Homo sapiens: one gene and its partners. The protein of the gene in region 1 interacts with the protein of each later gene in a pairwise test. Each region holds a gene or a part of one and is shown in the gene's direction. Other genes may lie near its edges.

What was found. Proteins that work in one complex are often made in the same cells at the same time.
Region 2: the proteins of ZXDC (region 1) and SOD1 interact in binary tests that used the Homo sapiens proteins (3 or more experiments, as listed by UniProt).
Region 3: the proteins of ZXDC (region 1) and ZMYND19 interact in binary tests that used the Homo sapiens proteins (3 or more experiments, as listed by UniProt).

What each region holds. Positions count from the first base shown.
Region 1 is NC_000003.12:126,472,545-126,480,325, reverse strand, and holds the start of ZXDC (zinc finger protein ZXDC), read left to right. Parts: upstream 1-4,434; 5' UTR 4,435-4,460; coding exon 4,461-5,367; intron 5,368-7,781. UniProt on the Homo sapiens protein: Cooperates with CIITA to promote transcription of MHC class I and MHC class II genes.
Region 2 is NC_000021.9:31,662,693-31,669,526, forward strand, and holds the end of SOD1 (superoxide dismutase [Cu-Zn]), read left to right. Parts: intron 1-1,097; coding exon 1,098-1,194; intron 1,195-1,613; exon of another isoform or gene 1,614-1,790; intron 1,791-3,756; coding exon 3,757-3,826; intron 3,827-4,565; coding exon 4,566-4,683; intron 4,684-5,778; coding exon 5,779-5,886; 3' UTR 5,887-6,239; downstream 6,240-6,834. UniProt on the Homo sapiens protein: Destroys radicals which are normally produced within the cells and which are toxic to biological systems.
Region 3 is NC_000009.12:137,587,418-137,595,285, reverse strand, and holds the start of ZMYND19 (zinc finger MYND domain-containing protein 19), read left to right. Parts: upstream 1-4,773; 5' UTR 4,774-5,022; coding exon 5,023-5,073; intron 5,074-5,098; exon of another isoform or gene 5,099-5,648; coding exon of another isoform or gene 5,649-5,882; intron 5,883-6,567; coding exon 6,568-6,627; intron 6,628-7,462; coding exon 7,463-7,569; intron 7,570-7,868. UniProt on the Homo sapiens protein: May be involved as a regulatory molecule in GPR24/MCH-R1 signaling.

The sequences.
Region 1 (7,781 bases):
GTAGTCGCCATGGAAGGAACAGCGTGGCTTCTGATGTGCCCAGTGCCATCTTCTTTTTCAGAAGGCAAGGATGTATAGTCCAGTTAGAAATGTTTTCATCAAAATGATTAAAAGAGAAACCAGTTGGCCATGATGAGTGTAGGGTTCAGTTGCCTTAAGAGTTGGAGGTGAGAAAGGCTCAGGCCCTGCAGTACAGCATTAGGGTCCTCCCCCTGGGCAGCGCCTGCTCTCTGCAAACCCAGGGTCCCTGGGAACTGTATGCTTTCCTTGCTGGCAAGCCAAGGTCAGGGAGGGAGGGCCTGGCTGAGTGATGCACTCTCCCATTCCAGTTTTCCCAGAGTAGACAACCACACAGGGGCCTGTGGGCCGGGCATGACCTGCAGTTATGTTTTATTTATATATTTTTTAGAAATAGGATCTTGCTCTGTCACTCAGGCTGGAGTGCAGTGGTGCAATCATGGCTCACTGTAGCCTTGAACTCCTGGGCTGAAGTGATCCTCCTGCCTTAGCCTCCCAAGTAGCTGGGACCACAGGAGCACAGCACTACACTCAGCCTGCAGTTGTGTTTTGTTTGGTCTGTCCTGTTTTTAAAAAAATTTGACTTTGTCACCAATGTTTACAAATTGGGAGAAATCCAGAGCTTATTTTTTGAAAATCAAGATATAAGGTAACACCATGTTCTCACCACCTCTGTGGCAGTGATTTGCTGGGGGCCCCTCTGGGCTGGCCTAGCTCTCTGCACTTGGCCACAGTCCCTTCCAGTCCCTACAGAACCCATGGTGAGGCGGAGCGTGTATGCTGTTTGTCCCTTGGCATGAGAGTCTATGTTTCCTGTGCCCACCTGTCTCCCACATTTGTGTGACTTGTATGACCTCTGCTGGGATTTGAACTTGTGACCTTTGACAAAGAGATGCTCTTTTGCTCCCAGTGAACCTCATCCCCACTCCCATCAAAATTTGGGAATCCTGGACACTTCTCTGTTAGCAATCTCAAGATCCACATGATGCCTTTTAGCCCAAAAGAGGTGCTGGACATCCAGCGATACCTGGGCTGATGGGATTTCTCCCCAGACACAAATAAATCTGAGCGTGCATGCGTGTGTCATCTGCGTCCCTTCCCCTGGCTTCTCCAAAATCCTTTCCACACAGCCTGGAGAGTACAGGTCTGGCTGGCCAAGGCACAATCTCTGTGGTCCTTGTAATTTGGGGCACTCCTTTGAGACTACCAAGTTCAAGTCTCTGCCTGAGCCCCACTGGATGACCACATTGAGCTGACTCAAGCCCACCTGGTGAAGTGGCGCGTCTGACCCTCGCCAGGAGTCCTGTTGCTCCTTTCAGGGTATCTCAGCAGAAGGCTGAAACAACCTAGTATCTGAAACAACCTAGTATCAGATTTGAGCTTTGGTTGGGTGGGGGAGTCTTAGGAAGCGGGGATTTGCTCTGGATTGGCTCTTACCAGAAATCGGGTCAACACCATGACTAGGTTTCTGACTAAATCCTATATACAGAGAGGGAAGCACACAGACAGACAGGCTGTCAGGGGTACAAAAGCGGCGGCTGCTCACGTTAGCTGAGAGAGGGGCTGCTGGGTATCTTGTAAATGGCACAGCAAGTGACCTCGCTTTATCTGGGTGGAGACACATCATGAAGTGGCCTTGCTTTGTCTCATGTCATTGTGTTTCAGTGACCTTGGCCTAGGTTGGTTTTCTGCGTGATGGTTCAAGTCTTACAGAACAGAGTGGCCCAGCTGTAGCACCCGGCCAGTTTCTGGATGGCAGGGGCTGCCCTTTTTCTTTCTCAGTCCCCTTCATTTTACACATGAGGAAACTGAGGCACAGAGAAGTTGTGATAGTTTAAAAATGGCTGCAAATTCTTTCCAGCACCTCCCATTGAGAGGTGGAGTACAAGTTCCCCTTGCCTGGGTCTGCAGTGTCTTATGACTTCTTTGATCACGAGAATGTGGCATAATCAATGCTGCGCAACAAGTTGGGCATGGTGGCATATGCCTGTAGTCCAGTTAATTGGGAGGCTGACCCGGAAGGACTGCTTGAGGCCAGTTGGAGGTCGCACTATGATTGCACCTGTGAATAGCCACCACACTCCAGCCTCAGCAACACAGGGATGGACTTGCTGGGTCATGTGGAGATTATGTTTAGCTTTCTGCAGAACTGCCAAACTGTTTTCCACACCGCAACGTTATACATTCCCACCAGCCATATGTGAGAGTTCCAATTTTTCTATATCCTGTTTTTAAAAAAATTACCACTATTTGAGTAGGTGTGAAGTTGTATCTCACTGTGTTTTGATTTGCATTTCCCTAATGATTCGTGATGTTGAGCCTCTTTTTATTTGCTTATTGGCTGTTTGTATTATCTTCTTTGGAGAAATATGTCTATTCAAACCTTTGCCTTTTAAAAAAGTGGACTGTTTGTCTTCTTGCTAAGAGTTCTTTATATATTCCAGATAGTAGATCCTTATCAGATATTCGATTTGCACACCCTTCTCCCATTCTGAGTTGTCTTTTCACTGTCTTATTGGTGTCCTTTTACCTGAGTAAGTTTTTAATTTTGATGAAGTCCAAGTTATCTATTTTTCTTTCTTGTGCTTTCAATATTATATCTAAGAAACTATTCCCTAATCCAGGGTCACATAGATTTACACCTACTTTTCTTCAAATAGTTTTATGTCTTACGTGTAGGCTTTTGCTCTAATTTGAGTTAATTTTTGCCTCTGATGAGAGATACACGTCCAAATTGGTTCTTTTGCATGTGGAGATCCAGTTGTCCCAGTGCCGCCATTATTGAAATGACTATTCTTTCCTCTACTGAATGGTCTAGGAACAATATGTTTTCGGCATAAACTGATATATATAATAGATGTATCCTATTCTTTTTAATATTATAATTTGTGTTACTTAAAAAAATACTCTTAATAATAAAGCATTCATGTATTTAACAAATATGCACCAAGAGTCTTCCTGGGCACACACAGTGAATAGGACACAGTTCCTGGGCTCCAGGAGCCTACATTCCAGAGAGGGAGAGACAGTGAAGGAGCAGGGAAGGAACTCAACAAAACAACGGGTGATGAGAGCTCTAAGAGCAAACAGATCAGACAGAGGTGGGAATACGGGACTGGGTAAGCATGTGCTTTGGATCAGAAGGGGCGCAGAGTCCTCCCAGAGGAATCAGAGATCAGCTGCGCCAAGTCTCTGAGGCTGGAACCAGCTTGGCTTGCTGGATGAACTGGGAAAAAGAGGTGGGGTGCGGGGGAGGGGTGGGGGGGGCAGCGGGAGAGTGGCGGGAAGTGAGGGCAAACAGGTAGGGGAGGGTAGACTAGCAAGGCCATAGGCGCCTTCGGGAGCAAGGTGGAGGTGAGCATAATTTGATGTGCAATTTTTAGATCATAAAACGGTGCCCCGTGGATGGGAGCGAGTGGAGCGGAGGGAGACCGATGACCAGCTAGTAGTTATTTTTCAGGTACCCAGGAATAAAGTGCGGGTTTGGATCTGAGTGGTGGTGAAGTTGAAGTGGAGGAGTCCAGATTGAATGCGGAGGTGTACGGTGAGGTGGGGGAGGGTGAGGACCGGAAACAGTAAGTAATTAAGCTGTTGCAGAGTGAGGTTGTGCCAAGTTTAGTAGGAAATACAGTTGGAAATACAGGCAGGGGTCCTGCGTATCAGGGAGGCCCCGTGTGCCGAGCAAGGACCTGGGCCAAAGCAAACGAGGTCTGTGCGCCAGCGGCGGCAGGCGAGCTTGCACTTAAGTGAGCTGGGGGTAGGCGTCCGGCCTGTTGGACAGGTTCGAATCCTGGATCTGCCGGCTGCCGAGTGACTCGAGCTCGCCGTCCCTGTTTCCTCACCCCTGGGTGACCGCGCACGCTTAATCAGCTCGGACAGGTACAGCCCCTGGGACGCAGTCAATGCCTACGAGAGGTTGCCTGTTAAGTGTCTGAAATATTAATACGATTCGAAGTCAAGACAAGCCTCGTCTTCCACGCCAGCGGGAACGAGAAGGAATCGCTCAGCGTTGGGAGCCTCACCCCGTCCCCTGTCGGTCCCGTGCCCCGCCGCTCGCCCTCGTAGGTGCCGGCGCTCCGCCCCCCGACCCCGCGCCCCGCCCCCCGACCCCGCGCCCCGCCCCCCGACCCCGCGCCCCGCCCCCCGACCCCGCGCCCCGCCCCCCGACCCCGCGCCCCGCCCCCCGACCCCGCGCCCCGCCCTAGTCGGTCCCGGCGCCCCGCCCCCGCCTCCGCCTCCGGCGCCCCGCAGCCCAGCCTCACGTCACGTCAGCCCAGCAGGCCTCGCGCATCGCCCGGCGGCGTCCGCGCACGCGCGGTTCCGAGCCGGACTCTACGCCGGGGCTTGGCGCGGATCGCGTCCCGGGGCGGCGCACGCACACCTGGGCGGGGCGCGGGCAGCTCTGCGTCCGAAGCTGCTCCGACGCCGTCGCTGGGACCAAGATGGACCTCCCGGCGCTGCTCCCCGCCCCGACTGCGCGCGGAGGGCAACATGGCGGCGGCCCCGGCCCGCTCCGCCGAGCCCCAGCGCCGCTCGGCGCGAGCCCCGCGCGCCGCCGCCTGCTACTGGTGCGGGGCCCTGAAGATGGCGGGCCCGGGGCGCGGCCCGGGGAGGCCTCCGGGCCAAGCCCGCCGCCCGCCGAGGACGACAGCGACGGCGACTCTTTCTTGGTGCTGCTGGAAGTGCCGCACGGCGGCGCTGCCGCCGAGGCTGCCGGATCACAGGAGGCCGAGCCTGGCTCCCGTGTCAACCTGGCGAGCCGCCCCGAGCAGGGCCCCAGCGGCCCGGCCGCCCCCCCCGGCCCTGGCGTAGCCCCGGCGGGCGCCGTCACCATCAGCAGCCAGGACCTGCTGGTGCGTCTCGACCGCGGCGTCCTCGCGCTGTCTGCGCCGCCCGGCCCCGCAACCGCGGGCGCCGCCGCTCCCCGCCGCGCGCCCCAGGCCTCCGGCCCCAGCACGCCCGGCTACCGCTGCCCCGAGCCGCAGTGCGCGCTGGCCTTCGCCAAGAAGCACCAGCTCAAGGTGCACCTGCTCACGCACGGCGGCGGTCAGGGCCGGCGGCCCTTCAAGTGCCCACTGGAGGGCTGTGGTTGGGCCTTCACAACGTCCTACAAGCTCAAGCGGCACCTGCAGTCGCACGACAAGCTGCGGCCCTTCGGCTGTCCAGTGGGCGGCTGTGGCAAGAAGTTCACTACGGTCTATAACCTCAAGGCGCACATGAAGGGCCACGAGCAGGAGAGCCTGTTCAAGTGCGAGGTGTGCGCCGAGCGCTTCCCCACGCACGCCAAGCTCAGCTCCCACCAGCGCAGCCACTTCGAGCCCGAGCGCCCTTACAAGTGTGACTTTCCCGGTAACCGCGCTCTCGGGGGCGGGCGGGCTGCGCGGTGTTGCAGGCAGGTCTGGGGTGCCACGTCCGCCCCACAGAGGGGCCTGCCAGACCTTAGCAAGCCGGGGACGCAGGCTCTTCGGGATTTGTATTCTAGCTCCTTCCATGTCATTCGATTTGAGATCTTGGCCCTGCCCTGCCGCAGGGATTCCGATGGCAGGTAGCGCAGATCACCACAGCTGCGCTTCCCAAAGGTGGCGGCAACAGATATCCTTAACCTGCTTGTGCTTGATGAAAGCGGCACGCATCTTCACAGAGTGGCACGGAGCTATGTGTCAGGTCTTTATTTTCCTCAGTCTCGTCATTTGTTTACGGGGTGCACACTCCGTGCTAGAGGAGCAGAGATGAATGTGGCCAGATTCAGGACCTTAACACGCTGGGAGGATAGCCACAGGTGTGCGCACATCCTGGCTTTTTTTGCCTTTTGCACTTTGATTTCCGTTGAACCTCACAGTTTTGTGAAGTTTTAAAAATTAGCCGTCTGTGAAGGTTAAAAACTGTCCTCTTTTACAGATGAAGAGACAGAGGCCGAGCCTTGTGGATAAAGTCCACTGCTGGTGGCTGGGCGCGGTGGCTCACGCCTGTAATCCCAGCACTTTGGGAGGCCGAGGCGGGCGGATTACGAGGTCAGGAGATCGAGACCATCCTGGCTAACACGGTGAAACCCCGTCTCTATTAAAACTACAAAAAATTAGCCGGGCGTGGTAGCGGGCGCCTGTAGTCCCAGCTACTCGGGAGGCTGAGGCAGGAGAATGGTGTGAACCCCAGAGACGGAGCTTGCAGTGAGCCGAGATCGCGCCACTGCATTCCAGCCGGGGCGACAGAGCGAGACACCGTCTCAAAAAAAAAAAAAAAAAAAAGTCCACTGCCTGTTCTTTCTCCTGTGTGTTGACCTGCAGTTGTTGGGAATGTAGGACTCCAACACAGTGAGCTCTTCACCAGGATGGGCAGCTTTCCCTGCTTTCACAGGGATAGGGTTCCTCCAGAAGGGCAAGAAAGGATTCCTCCCTGGAAAGGCAGAAGAATGGAGTCGGCTGGGTGGCAGAGCCCAGGTGGGGATTGTGGTCTGTGGTGAGGGCCCAGGAGGAAGGACCAGTCATTCAAACAGAAACTGGAATGTGTGCCTAGCATGCCCCTAACCTGTATATGCACACGGCTCTCCTTATAATGTCCTTAAACAAGAATTTTTAAAGGATGAGATGAGAATTATGAACGGGTTTTATTATTTTTTCCCTCGCATATGCCTGTGGACTGTCTTGCGCATTCCTCTTCAGAGAGAATGTGGCTTGAGGCCACTAGCTCAAAGTCTTTTTCAGTCATACACTCTTGGGAATCTGATGGTGGCTGTAGACCCTTTCCCTGCTAAAAGAGTATCATTCTGTGTATGACACTGGGAAGGTCAGGGATCCCGCCTGCTTCCAGGCATGAGGTCTCTTGAGGGTTTTGTGTTGGCTGATCCATGAGGCTTCTTGTGTTGAGATGAGATTAGATGGTTAGATGAGATTAGATGTTTAGAAGCAGGAGCAGGACCAGGGAAGCATCATCAAAGGGCCCAGACCTGAGTTTTCTGAAGGCCTGAGCCAGGGAGTGGGAATGATGAGGGTCTCTAGCAGGTGAGATTGCAGAGGGAGAACCAAAGGGTGTAATTATCTATGGGGGTGTGGGGGGTTCTTGCCAAGGCAGAGAGAGTCTGTGTTCAGATTTACATGACCAAGTGTGTGAACACACCGAAGCCCAAAATACCCTGGAGGTATTTTGGGACCAGATTGAGGCCAAAGATCAGCATTTCTGAGTTAGATGTTGCTGGGGAAAGTAGGGTTCCTTGGGCTGATACTTTTGGGCAGTGCTATGCCATGTACATCTGTGTGGCAGTTCATAGGCATGATAGTATCTCGTTAAAGGCTCCAAGAGGAGCTGCAGCAAAGACTCCTGTTAAACATCCTGCAGCCTCATGTTTTCCACCCTGTTGGAGCCCTGAATGTTTCTGTCGGAGGAGAAGTATTGCTGTGGAATTGTTGAGGCTTAGCTGCTTTGGCCAGGGGTTAGGATTGAGGTGAAGATTACAAAGCAGGGAACCTAAGGAAATTGCGAAAGGAAAAAGAATCCAAACAGCAAGGGACAGGGCTGGCAGTTGGAGGGTGTCAGGGAGGAAATTTGGATATGTAGAGGATGCAGCATCACCCCCAAGGGGTGAAAAATCCTGGCTAGTAGGATGATTTGTAGCCTTTCAAAGATCAACCCTACCAGACAAAATCTTGTTCCTTAGTATTTGATTTCTCTCATGGGGTTCTTGGGTCTCAGTGTGTGTGCAGGATCAGTGCTCCGGAGCCGGCCAGTAGATGGCTGTGAACGGAGGACTTTCTCTTTATCGGTTGCTC
Region 2 (6,834 bases), on another chromosome or scaffold:
ATATAATATTTTCTGACTGCTAATTAAAAATACCTGTGATAGCCGGGCGTGGTGGCTTACGCCTGTAATCCCAGCACTTTGGGAGGCCGAGACGGGTGGATCACGAGGTCAGCAGATGGAGACCATCCTGGCTAACACGGTGAAACCCCGTCTCTACTAAAAATGCAAAAAAATTAGCCGGGTGTGGTGGTGGGCGCCTGTAGTCCCAGCTACTCAGGAGGCTGAGGCAGGAGAATGGCATGAACCTGGGAGGCGGAGCTTGCAGTGAGCCGAGATCATGTCACTGCACTCCAGCCTGGGCGACAGAGCGAGACTCGTCTCAAAAAAAAAAAGAAAAAAACTTATGATGGACACTTAAAAACACTCACTGAGTGGGGAGTGGAGAGCAGGGGTCCCAGGGTAGCCTGTTGGACATTTCCAGGGCGACTTTTTCTTTTTTTTTTTTTAAAGTCAAGTGAGTATGCCATATGGAAAAGGGTGTGCGTGGAGAAAAAGCAAGGGGCTCCAGAGTGTAGGATGAGACATACACCTTTTGGGTTAAAAAGGCTGAGGCAGGAGAATGGCGTGAACCCGGGAGGCGGAGCTTGCAGTGAGCTGAGATCATGCCACTGCACTCCAGCCTGGGCGACAGAGCGAGACTCTTGTCTCAAAATAAAAAACGTTTACATGTACATGTATATTCAACATGTACAAATATAACCTATTCAAAAGTATTTACTACATAAATAGGTACTTACATTACCTATTTACTGTAATAGTCAAAGCCTATGAAGTATCTAACACTGATGTGTAGGTACTCACTTTGCTTGCCACTCTATTAGGTGCTTTTTATGTTATTTAATCATGAAGCCTGGCCACAGGGTGCTTGTGCATTGAGTGTGGGAACAAGATTACCATCTCCCTTTTGAGGACACAGGCCTAGAGCAGTTAAGCAGCTTGCTGGAGGTTCACTGGCTAGAAAGTGGTCAGCCTGGGATTTGGACACAGATTTTTCCACTCCCAAGTCTGGCTGCTTTTTACTTCACTGTGAGGGGTAAAGGTAAATCAGCTGTTTTCTTTGTTCAGAAACTCTCTCCAACTTTGCACTTTTCTTAAAGGAAAGTAATGGACCAGTGAAGGTGTGGGGAAGCATTAAAGGACTGACTGAAGGCCTGCATGGATTCCATGTTCATGAGTTTGGAGATAATACAGCAGGTGGGTGTTGTGCTGTGCTGGTGACCCATACTTGTTCACCCTAGTTAGATAAACAGTAGAGTAGCCCCTAAACGTTAAAACCCCTCAACTTGTTTTTGTTTTTGAGAAAGGGTCTTGCTCTGTCGCTCAGGCTGGAGTGCAGTGGCGCTGTGCGATCATGGCTGACCTTAGCCTTGACCTCCCAGGCTCCATTGATCCTCATGCCTTGGCCCGTAGCTGGGACTACAGGTACACACCACCACGCCTGGCTAATTTTTGTATTTTTTTCTAGAGGTGGGGTTTCATCATGTTGCCCAGGCTGGTCTTGAACTGCTGGGCTCAAGTGGTCTATCCTCCTCGACCTCCCAAAGTGCTGGGATTACATGTGTGAGCCACTGTGCCTGGGAAAACCCTCAACTTTTCTTTTAAAAAAGAGGTCAACTTTATTGTATATAAGCACTGTGCTAAAATTGCAGGAACTGGGACCATATCCTGATTTTTGTAATAATGCCAGCAGAGTACACACAAGAAAAGTAACTGCACTAGATTGTGAAGACTGGGGTGGACCTGCTTCTGAAGGTCCAGTGCCCTTTGTCTTAAGATTTGGTGTAGTGTGTCTTTAGAAACCAAAAAAAGAGAAGAAGATCAACCTTAAGATTAGCCACAAAACTGGGCTTTGATACCTAGGTGTGGAAAAGAAAGGGAAAGAGTTGATGTTTTGTCTTACAGCATCATTGTAGAAGAGGGTGTTTTTTTGTTTGTTTGTTTTTTGAGACGGAGTCTTACTCTGTGGCCCAGGCTGGAGTGCAGTGGCGCGATCTCGGCTCACTGCAAGCTCCGCCTCCCGGGTTCATGCCATTCTCCTGCCTCAGCCCCCTGAGTAGCTGGGACTACAGGTGCCCGCCACCCCGCCTGGCTAATTTTTTGTATTTTTAGTAGAGACGGGGTTTCACTGTGTTAGCCAAGATGGTCTCTCTCCTGACCTCGTGATCCGCCTGTCTCAGCCTCCCAAAGTGCTGGGATTACAGGCATGAGCCACCGCACCCAGCCAGAAGAGGGTGTTTTTTAAAGAAGGCAAATAGGAAATAAAAACTTGGGCTCTTAACTTTTGTAATGATCCCAGGTGTTTGAGCTGGGGGTTGAGGGTGGGTGCCTCGAGCAAAGGGGCTGCATTTATTTGCATAATGCCATGTAAGAGTAGCTCTACACCCCAAACACAGGCTTCTTAGTGGGACCAAAGTATGATACAAACTGAAGATGGAATGCAGAGGATTATTGGTACTTTGGAATATGCTTAAAAAAAATTTTTTTAAAGTATTTTTAAAAAATCAGGCAACCCCTGAACCAGAGTAGGTTCAGAGAAACTGCCAAATTTTATTTTCTTAATTTGGGATTGGAAGCAAGTTAACAGAAGTTTATGAGTTAAGTTGCATTTAGTGATCTTTTGCCATATTTGAGTAATAATCTGATTTTTTTGTTTATAGATTTCTTCTTAAATTAACTTTATTCATCTTGCTAATTTAGTTTCAAATAGTGATTTGTAATGATCAGATTTGATCCATTTCTGTAATTGCTGAAATTCCCCCGAGTTGCTTTTTGGCTTTACCGCCTCTGGTCTGGGAGGTGATTGCTCTGCTGCTTCCTGTAACTTGCCTGCCTTTCTCCCTGTGTGGGACTCCTGCGGGTGAGAGCGTGGCTGAAGACAGCCGTGTTATGAAAGGGCCTCCTGTGCTGTCGAGGTTGTGCTCTGTGAATGTCATCCCCTGGTGCACAGCAGCACCTTCTACACAGGATACAGTTGGAATGCCGCCCCCTCGAGTTGTGTAAGGCAGCAGCCTTGGCCCTTGCACATAAGATGCTGTTGAATATTCTGCCTGCACCAAGTAAAGGGCACAGATAGAACTGCTTGGCATATGTTGCTGGGGAGATGAGTTTTTTGTAAAGTATACTACGTTCTTAAGAATTTGGATCATAACCATGGGATTTTAATAATAGAAAAACTGTTGAAGATCAGTCTGGTCCCTTATTTTTACAGTGAAGAAGCCAAAGCCCAGAGAAGGGTGTTAACTTTACAAGTGTCAGACAGTAGTTAGAACTTGGTGGGGTTTTTTTTTTTTTTTTTTTGAGATGGAGTCTTGCTCTGTTGCCCAGGCTGGAGTGCAGTGGTGCGATCTCAGCTCACTGCAACCTCTGCCTCCCAGGTTCAAGCGATTCTCCTGCCTCAGCCTACTAAGTAGCTGGGACTATAGGTGCGCACCACCACGCCTAGCTAATTTTTGTATTTTTTCAGTAGAGACAGGGTTTTGCTATGCTGGCCAGGCTGGTCTCAAACTCCTGACCTCAGATGATCCAGCCACCTCAGCTTCCCAAAGTGCTGGGGTTCCAGGTGTTAGCCACCATGCCTGGCCATAGACTTGTTTCTGTTCCCTTCTCACTGTGGCTGTACCAAGGTGTTGCTTATCCCAGAAGTCGTGATGCAGGTCAGCACTTTCTCCATGGGAAGTTTTAGCAGTGTTTCTTTTTAGAATGTATTTGGGAACTTTAATTCATAATTTAGCTTTTTTTTCTTCTTCTTATAAATAGGCTGTACCAGTGCAGGTCCTCACTTTAATCCTCTATCCAGAAAACACGGTGGGCCAAAGGATGAAGAGAGGTAACAAGATGCTTAACTCTTGTAATAATGGCGATAGCTTTCTGGAGTTCATATGGTATACTACTTGTAAATATGTGCTAAGATAATTCCGTGTTTCCCCCACCTTTGCTTTTGAACTTGCTGACTCATCTAAACCCCTGCTCCCAAATGCTGGAATGCTTTTACTTCCTGGGCTTAAAGGAATTGACAAATGGGGACACTTAAAACGATTTGGTTTTGTAGCATTTATTGAATATAGAACTAATACAAGTGCCAAAGGGGAACTAATACAGGAAATGTCATGAACAGTACTGTCAACCACTAGCAAAATCAATCATCATTGTGAAACATAGGAAGCTTCTGTAGATAAAAAAAAAAATTGATACTGAAAACTAGTCGAGACTCCATTTATATGTGTATGTTTTCTGAAAGCCTTTCAGAAAAATATTAAATTTAAGGACAAGATTTTTATATCAGAGGCCTTGGGACATAGCTTTGTTAGCTATGCCAGTAATTAACAGGCATAACTCAGTAACTGAGAGTTTACCCTTTGGTACTTCTGAAATCAGGTGCAGCCCCATCTTTCTTCCCAGAGCATTAGTGTGTAGACGTGAAGCCTTGTTTGAAGAGCTGTATTTAGAATGCCTAGCTACTTGTTTGCAAATTTGTGTCTACTCAGTCAAGTTTTAATTTAGCTCATGAACTACCTTGATGTTTAGTGGCATCAGCCCTAATCCATCTGATGCTTTTTCATTATTAGGCATGTTGGAGACTTGGGCAATGTGACTGCTGACAAAGATGGTGTGGCCGATGTGTCTATTGAAGATTCTGTGATCTCACTCTCAGGAGACCATTGCATCATTGGCCGCACACTGGTGGTAAGTTTTCATAAAAGGATATGCATAAAACTTCTTCTAACATACAGTCATGTATCTTTTCACTTTGATTGTTAGTCGCGGTTTCTAAAGATCCAGATAAACTGTACTTGCAGTTCAAATTAGGAAAAGCAATTTTATTGGACAATTACGGTGAAAATGAATTATTTTATCTAGGTCAGTTAAGAACACTGTTCTGCTAAGATGCAGTAAAAAGCAGGTTACATTTGACCATATTAGATCTGAGTTTGGAAAACAGAAGTAGTCTTTAGTTTTAAAATGGCCAGATTTTCTTGCCAGGATTGGGTTTCTCACTTGTTAAACAGAACATTTTGTTAAGTTTAAAACCTGGGATGGACTTAAGTATTCATGTTCATTCATGTTCATTCAGGACTGCAGGTTATCATGACTTGTTTAACTTGTGGGAAGCTGTTGTCCCAAGTTATCCTGGGGAACTGCATCTGGTTCTTGCAAAACACCAAGTAGACAGGCTCTCTTTTACCTCCCCTTGAGGGCATTAACATTCAGTAGTCACTTCCATTCAGTTAACCCTTTATTTTTATGGTTTTTCTTGAGCCATAGTTGTAAAGCAGAAAAATCATTTATAAAGGTTTGTTGAACAAAATTCAAAATACTGTTGCTTAAAGTATTAAGATTTTTTAGGATTATACCTTACTTATAGGCCCGTCATTCATTTGGCATGAAATTTTGAGTTTTATTCACTTTCACTTTCCTTTTTTTCCAAAGCAATTAAAAAAACTGCCAAAGTAAGAGTGACTGCGGAACTAAGGTTACTGTAACTTACCATGGAGGATTAAGGGTAGCGTGTGGTGGTCTACAACATAGTTATTTGGGTTTTAGTATTTCATTTAGACAGCAACACTTACCTAATGTTTAAAGGTAATGTCTTTGCAACACCAAGAAAAAGCTTTGAGTAGTAGTTTCTACTTTTAAACTACTAAATATTAGTATATCTCTCTACTAGGATTAATGTTATTTTTCTAATATTATGAGGTTCTTAAACATCTTTTGGGTATTGTTGGGAGGAGGTAGTGATTACTTGACAGCCCAAAGTTATCTTCTTAAAATTTTTTACAGGTCCATGAAAAAGCAGATGACTTGGGCAAAGGTGGAAATGAAGAAAGTACAAAGACAGGAAACGCTGGAAGTCGTTTGGCTTGTGGTGTAATTGGGATCGCCCAATAAACATTCCCTTGGATGTAGTCTGAGGCCCCTTAACTCATCTGTTATCCTGCTAGCTGTAGAAATGTATCCTGATAAACATTAAACACTGTAATCTTAAAAGTGTAATTGTGTGACTTTTTCAGAGTTGCTTTAAAGTACCTGTAGTGAGAAACTGATTTATGATCACTTGGAAGATTTGTATAGTTTTATAAAACTCAGTTAAAATGTCTGTTTCAATGACCTGTATTTTGCCAGACTTAAATCACAGATGGGTATTAAACTTGTCAGAATTTCTTTGTCATTCAAGCCTGTGAATAAAAACCCTGTATGGCACTTATTATGAGGCTATTAAAAGAATCCAAATTCAAACTAAATTAGCTCTGATACTTATTTATATAAACAGCTTCAGTGGAACAGATTTAGTAATACTAACAGTGATAGCATTTTATTTTGAAAGTGTTTTGAGACCATCAAAATGCATACTTTAAAACAGCAGGTCTTTTAGCTAAAACTAACACAACTCTGCTTAGACAAATAGGCTGTCCTTTGAAAGCTTTAGGGAAATGTTCCTGCTTAGTCATTTTAGCATTTTGATTCATAAAGTACCTCCTCATTTTAAAAAGACATTATGATGTAAGAGAGCCATTTGATAACTTTTTAGTGAGCTTTGAAAGGCAAGTTACAGCCTCAGCTAGCTAGTAAGATTATCTACCTGCCAGAATGGCACAAATTCTACATTCAAGGGTAGACGCTGGCACAACCTACTTACAGATTAGCCCTTTAAAGCAATCTGTAGCATTAGAAGATGGAACCAAGGAAATGTTTGACTGTGGGTTCTGGCTGTTGAGAAATAATTTACACACCGAATTAGTGAAATGAGTCACTTTCTCTTAATGTATTTATGTACCTGAGAGAATGCTTTTCAATGTTAACCTAACTCAGGTTTGACTAAATTATTCAATTGGAAAT
Region 3 (7,868 bases), on another chromosome or scaffold:
ATCTCTGTGAACTCTATACTCACATATTCTACTTATACATTCAACTGCCTTGTAACCTTAACATGTAGCATAAGTAACACATTTTTATTTGGCTAAGCCGCTGAGAACTTGGGGTTGTTACTGCAGCATACCCAGGCCCATCCTGACATACACACCCCTCCACCACAGGTCCAAACATCACCACTTACCAGGAGAGGTCGAGTGTCCCTTATCCAAAATGCTCGGGACTAGAAGTGTTTCAGATTTTGGATTTTGGACTCTTTGTATTATACTTGCCTGATGGCGCTTTCCATATCCAAAATCCAAAATGCTCCAATGAGCACTTCCTTTGAGTGTCATGTCAGTGCTTACAAGGTTCAGATTTTGCAGCATCTCAGATTTCAGATCTGAATGCTCATCCTGTACTTGCCGCCCCTCCCGCCGCCCCATGTGCTGCTGCTTCTCAGTGGCCAGTTCATTGGCCACCTCTCCATTTTCTTTCGAGACGAAGTCTTGCTCTGTCGCCCAGGCTGTAGTGCAGTGGCGTGATCTAGGCTCACTGCAAGCTCCACCTCCCAGGTTCAGGCCATCCATTTTCTTTCATGACAGAGTCTTGCCCTGTTGCCCAGGTTGGAGTGCAGTGGAGTGATCTCAGCTCACTGCAACCTCTGCCTCCTGGGTTCAAGCGATTCTCCTGCCTCAGCCTCCCGAGTAGCTGGGATTACAGGCATGTGCCACCACACCTGGCTAATTTTTGTATTTTTAGTAGAGACAGGGTTTTGCCCTGTTGGCCAGGTTGGTGTTGAACTCCTGGCCTCAAGTGATCCACCCACCCCGGCCTCCCAAAGTGAGCCACCACACCCAGCCCCACCTCTCTATTTTCAAACATGCCAGACATGTCGCAGCTTAGGGCCTTTGCACAGGCCGTTCCTTCTGCCAAGAATGTTCTGCCCTGTATAGCCACACGGCTCACTCTGTCTCCTTCCACTGCAAGTTCCAATGCTGTTTTCTCAGAGGACGGCTCTGCCCACCCCTGCAGCAGGGCCTCTGACTGCCTTATGGTGATGGACTTGTTCTCCCCATTGCACTTCTCACTGGCCAACGCGGTGTATGGTTCCTCATTACGTGTATGTTCTGCCCCCCTCACTCGAGTATGAGCAGGGGCTTTCATTGATTTTGTTCATTGGTGTGGAGCAGTTTCAGCAGTGGGAGGGGTGAAAGCCCAGCTGGAGTGGGCTGTCAGGAGACTTGGGCGGTAGGCAGAATGCCCCCCAAAGGTGTCACGCCCTTATGCCTGCGCCTGTAATATTATGTTACATAACAAAAGGGACTTTGCAGATGTAAGTAGGTTACCAATTAGTGACCTTAAAATAGGGAGATTATCCTGTTTATCTGGGTGGACCCAATCTAATCACAGGAACACTTAAAGGCATAAAGCTTTCTCCAGCTGAAGGTGGGAGAAATGGGACAGAAAGGATCAAAGACGTGAAGTAGTAGAAAGGCTGGCTTTGGCCGGGCACAATGGCTCACACCTGTAATCCCAGCATTTTGGGAGGCTGAGGCGGGCGGATCACTTGAAGCCGGGAGTTCAAGACTAGCCTGGCTGGCATGGTGAAACCATGTCTACTAAAAATTTAAAAATTAGCTGGGCATGGTGGAGGGCACCTGTAGTCCCAGCTACTCGGGAAGCTGAGGCAGGAGAATCACTTGAACCCGGGAGGCGGAGGTGGCAGCGACCCGAGATTGTACCACTGCACTCCGGCCTGGATGACGAAGCCAGACTCTGTCTAAAAAGAAAAGAAAGTCTTGCTGGTTTTGAAGATGTGAGCGACCTCTAGAAGCTGAGAACAACCCCGGGCCGGCAGCCAGCAAGCGGAGACCTCATACAACCATGTGATGAATGTCAACAACCTGAAGGAGCCTGTAGCCCGGGTCTCCCCTAGGGCCCCTGCTAAGAGCTGAGGCAGCTGACACCCTGATTTCAGCCCTGAGACCTGCAGCAGAGAAGCCAGTCAAACCCACCTGCACTTCTAATGCACAGAACCGTGAGATAATGGGTGCTCTTTTGTGGTTGGTTGTTATAAAGTGATAGAAAACGAATTAACTAGGAGATAAGAGGAGACGCCAAGTACAGACAACCTGTTAAAAACTCTTGCTGGGATGGGAAGTAGGAAAATGAGGCAGTGGCTGGAAAGGGATGGGGGAGTCAAGGGCTTCTTTTTAAGGTGCCTGCCCCTGGGAGAGGGAAGCTGCAGTGAGAGGAAGCACCGCCCCAGCGTTACATAATTCCACCCTCGCAGGACACAGAGGCAGGGGTGCCACATTCATACTTGGGTAGAATGTGTAGATAAAGCAGCCGGCTTGTGGTGGACCAGGTATGAGTTCCCAAGCCAGCTGGGCACTGCCCGCAGCACTGCGCTGTGTCAACACCTGCAGGTCTTTCTCGGCTTTGGAGCCAAGAAGTCACCTTGCCAGGAACAGCCTCCAACCAATGACTGCAAGGTGAGAGGTGAATGCTGGGTCCCCTTGCAGCAGGGTGAAGGGTGAATGCCTTGGCTCCCCTGGCCCTCGGGGAGGGACTCTGAGGATGGTTCCTACACAAGCGCCTGCTACAGTAACTGGACTGGTAGCACCCCCTTCCCTGCCTCACACCCCTACTCTCCTGCTGGTGTCTCCTGGGGTCTTCTCTCAAGCTAACAATTTGGACTTTTTTTTTTTTTTGACGGAGTTTCACTCTGTTGCCCAGACTGGAGTGTGGTGGCACAATCTTGGCTCACTGCAACCTCTGCCTCCTGGGTTCACGCGATGTTCCTGCCTCAGCCTCCCAAGTAGCTGGGAATACAAGTGTGTGCCACCACATCCGCTAATTTTTGTATTTTTAGTAGAAACGGGATTTCACCCTGTTGGCCAAGCTGGTCTTGAACTCCTGACCTCAGGTGATCCACTTGCCTCGGCCTCCCAAAGTGCTGGGATTACAGGTATGAGCCACCAGGCCCGGACAAAATTTGGACTCGAATCCATTTCAAGTCAACCTCTGGGGGAACCTGGACTATGACACCAGTGCTTTTCAACTACCCTAGGGAGCACCCACCAAGCTCCACTTCTTTTCACAAAGCAGTTGCTCATAATCTCATCACACCCTTGCAACTCCATGAGGTTGAGATTGGTAGGGCAGGTACTTTTTTTTTTTTTTTTGAGACGGAGTCTCGCTCTGTCGCCCAACCTGGAGTGCAGTGGCACGATCTCGGCTCACTGCAAGCTCTGCCTCCCGGGTTCAAGCCATTCTCTTGCCTCAGCCTCCCAAGTAGCTGGGACTACAGGCACCCGCCACCACGCCCGGCTTTTTTTTTTGTATTTTTAGTAGAGGTGGGGTTTCACCGTGTTAGCCAGGATGGTCTCCAGCTCCTGACCTCGTGATCTGCCCGCCTCGGCCTCCCAAAGTGCTAGGATTACAGGCATGAGCCACCGCGCGCGGTCGGACAGGCATGTTTTGAGCAAGGCCCAGCCTGAACCCCAATGTGTGTCTCAGGCAGGCCAGGACTCATCAGCCCCTTCAGTCCTCTAGGGTGTCTGGGGTACTGGCAAGTACCAGGGGACCCAGAGATGGAACGTCTGGGCTCACTCATGTACACCCTTTGCAGGCTGGGGCACGGTGGCTCATGCCTGTAATCCCAGCACTTTGGGAGGCCGAGGTGGGCCGATCACCTCAGGTTGGGAGTTCGAGACCATCCTGGCCAATATGGAAAAACCTCACTTCTACTAAAAATACAAAAATTAGCCGGACATGGTGGCGCGTGCCTGTAGTCCCAGCTACTCGGGAGGCTGAGGCAGGAGAGTCGCTTGAACCCGAGAGGCAGAGGCTGCAGTGAGCCGAGATCGTGCCACTGCACTCTAGCCTGGGTGACAGAGCAAAACTCTGACTCAAAAAAAAAAAAAAAAAAAGCAAGAAAAGAAAACGGAACCCAGCAAGCCAGAAAGGAGCCTGTGCAGCTCCTCAGGTGCAGGAGTCGCCCTTGAGGCAGGGTGAGGCCTCCTCACGGGCGACTGGACACCGGCGGAGCAGGACGCAGGACCTAGCCCCGTTCGCTCCAGGCTGCAGGGGAGCCACGCTGCCCACCACGGCGTACCCAGTCCCTCCCTGAGCGGGTCTCGGCTTTCCCGCGGAGCCTAATGGGCCTCACTGGAGTTCCGTTTCCAGACGCCTTGGACCAGGCTGCTCTGGAGGTCAGCCGCCCCCGAGGCTGAAGAGCCGGCGGCTCGGAGAAGGCTGCGCGGGAGGCCGCGCCCTCCGGGTCGCGTGGGCCGGGCGTCCGCTGTCTCTCCAGAAACACCCGCGTCCCGCGGCAACGGCCTCTTCCTAGCCCGCCTCGCCCGCTCCCCGCCCGCCCAGAGGGCCCCGCACGAGCTCCGTCCACCTCCTCCTTCCGCGCTCGGGGCCAGGACGGCGGCGGGAAACAGCTTACGGAGGCTACCGCAAGGGAGGCGAAAAGCAGCCAGCTCGCAGAGCTCCACGGACCCGGCGCGAGTCCCCAGCCACACTCCGCACTGCCCCTCTAGGCGCGGCGCCGCTGCCCGCACAAAGCTTCCCGCGAAACTGACGTCGGCGCGCGCAGGCACCGCCCCCGGCCTCGCCCCTCCCCCGCGCTCGCCCCGCTCCCCAGAGCGCCGGCGCACTCGCCCTCCTCCTATTGGTTGTTGCGGGGCGGCGCGCGCCGGTCGGCGCCGTGCGCGCCTAGCCATTGGCCGAGCGGCGGCGGGCCGGGGGGTGTGTCCGGGGCTGCGCCCCGCCCCTCCGCTCCGCTCGCTGTGGTGCGCGCGGTGGCGGTGGCGGCGGCGGCGGCGGCGCGTGGCAGGTCCGGCGGGCGCGAGGCGGCGGCGGAGGCCCGAGCCCGGCCCAGCCTCGTCCCGCCCGGAGCCCGCCTGGCTGCTACCCCGACCCCGGCTCCGGTCCCGTCCTGTCCCGGCGCGCCGCGGCCTCGCCCCGGCCCCCGCTCGGCGCCTCCCGAGGGAGCGGCGCTGCCGGCCGAGAGCGCAGGCCCGGCCATGACCGACTTCAAATTGGGTATCGTGCGGCTCGGCCGGGTGGCCGGGAAGGTGAGCGGCGCGGAGCCCGCGACCCGGCCCGTCTCGCCCGTCCAGGCCTCCGCGCGGGGCCGGGGGCGGTTGTGCGGGCGGCGGCCGGGGCGGGGGCGCGGAGCCCGGGATGGGCCCCAGCGGGGCGGGGGACGCTGCGCGGGCCCGGCTGCTGGCCCCGCGCGGGTGCAGCTTCCTCTCGCAGGCCGGCGGGCACGCACCCCTCGGCTCTGGGGTGCACCTGGCCACCCTCGGCCCTGCCCTGCCGGAGGTGGAGGCCACGGCCCTGTCCCGAGCCGGGTGCGGAGATGCGTGGCTCGAGCCCGAGCCGCGTTCTCCCGGAGCCCTCCCAGTGGTGTCGGCGATCCGGGGCCTAGCGCGGCGTCCGGGCTGCCAGTGCGGCCACACGGTTTAAACACAGCGCCCTTTCCGAGGCAGCGCCACTTCCACACCTCTCGCCGAGGCGGGTCTGGTGTGGGCTCTTCTGTGCCTCCCAGTTCTCAGCAGGGCTTCAGGCTCGTTTTAACGCTGCCAGGGGTTGGCCACGTTAGGCTGAGCCTCAGACTCGGAGCAGAGAGGAAGAAGCCTGGGCCCTGATGCTGCAGACTCAGGGCCTTCCTCGACTTCTCTTCTTACTTGGCCCCCACGCTCCACGTTTGAGGCTGGGGATTCCATGGCACCTGTGGGCATTGAGGCTTGGCGGTTTCTCGGAGCCACCTGTGCAGCTGCACCAGCCAGGGTCCTTACCCGGATGGGAGCCCTGTTCCCGTCACCAGCGGCTGCGGCTTTTGGTGGGAGAGAGGAGCCGAGGCAGTGTCAGGCGGCGTCAGGTAAAACAGGTTCAGATCCCAGAAGAAAAACTGCCAAGAGGGAGACTGGCCCGTTCTGGGACCTGTTCCTGTTTCCTGCCCCTGCTGCAAGAGCATAGGCAGGGCCTGCTGGGGAGGAGGCTTTTTTCCACCAGGGAAGGGTGGGCTCTCCAGTCAGGTCGGAGACCAGAGACCCCTTCTAACTCCACCCATGATGGCATTGTCATCCCTTACAGCTTTTCTTTGGAACATTTCAGATGGACAAAAAGCTAAAAAGGGTAATCAGTGAGTAGCTCAGCTTAATAAACACACCCTAATCAAAACCTTCTGGCTCTTCTGCCTCAGCCCCGGCCCCTCCCTCAGCTCAGTGAAACAGTCTTTGCCTAGGTTTATTGGTGCGTTGAATGTTCAGTGCCACTGTTGGGGTTAGCCCTGCGAGGATGAAGCCTGATACCAGCTCCTCTGGCGCAGACTAAAGTGGGCAGCTGGCTTTTAACCTGTCTGCCTGTGTTTTGTCGTAGACTGCACCACCCCAAACGGTGGAATGAGGCCCCCATGTGCTGAGCTGTCTTGGTCTGAAGAGGCCTGTAGTTACTTTCCACTTCACAGGAAAATGCAACAGGCTCCTGCCTGTTCTGGTTATAAGGTTACTGCACCTCACGCAGATCCCAAATGTAATGATTTGAAACATGTGGTTAACTTCCAGACCAAATACACGCTGATCGATGAGCAGGACATCCCGCTGGTGGAGAGCTACTCCTTTGAGGTAAGTAAGGATGGCTGTTCCCTCCCCTGATGCTCGTGGTCAGTGCCCAGGAGGGTCACGAGGAACGAGCTCTCTCCCCTGTGCTGCAAGAGCAGGCGGCCCCACAAGTGGACAACTGGTGCTGGCCTGTGAGCCCTGAGCCGTCAGCCCCACTTCGAGCCGTGGCCCTGCAGAACCTGGCTGTTGCTGCCACTGGAGCCCACTGTGGCCCACATGGCCTGGCGACAGTGGTCTTCCTCACTTTCACCCCAGCTGCCAGCTCCTCTTGAAAGCAAATGGAATGTTCTCATGTTTGTGATTGTGTCACGTGGACCATGTCTGTTAGCTCGAAGACCCTGCTCTTTAGAGCTAGCCACCTCTGCTGGGCCTGCCTTAGCAGTCCCTCCTGGCTGCCCAGCTGCCTCCCGTTCTCTGCTCTCATGGGGTCTTCCTGCCTCTTCCCAGCTTCCATTCCTGCCGCTGAGCTTGGCCTCCCTCACCATCCTTTATCTCTGTGCCCCACACATTCACAGTAGTGACCTCTCCAGGGGGTTCTCTATCTCACTGCACCGTGGGCTTTTTTTAAGGGTAGGAAAATGTATTTGTCTATGTCCCATTGTATTTTGCAGAGTTGTTTGTGAGTGTTTCTTGCTCGAATAGACAGAGTGGTGGTGGGCCACGCTGGCCCCTGGGAGCCATGTGCCTGTGGGAAGCTCTGCACTCCCCAGGGTCTCAGGGACAGGGCTGGCATTTGTCCCTCTGGCTTGCTTGTTTCACTTGGTTTTTCTAAGAGGGAATTGAAGTGTTGCTGAGAATTGGAGGTTTTTTAACAGCTCTTTCCCTTGTTCCTTCTCAGGCCCGAATGGAAGTGGATGCAGATGGAAATGGTGCTAAGATATTTGCCTATGCCTTTGACAAGAACCGAGGAAGGGGCTCTGGGAGACTCCTTCATGAGCTGCTGTGGTGGGTGTTTCCAAGCTGTCTCTGCCCCCCGCCACTGGGCTCCTGGGTGAGCTCCGATGGCACAGGGCGCCTGGAGCCCCCTGCCCCGCTGAAGCCCTGCCTTGCCTTCCCTGAATCTCGCAGTTATTTTTGTGTCCTTCACCACTAACCCAAAGGAACGAATGATTTGTATGTTGCACTTCAAACACCAAGTGGACTTTCTGCTGGGAGCTTGCCCAGGACCGGCAGCCTCTGGAGGGACGGTGGTTGCTCCCCTTGCTGGGTTTTGCCGAGCCCCCCCGGTGTGCATGGTAGGGACC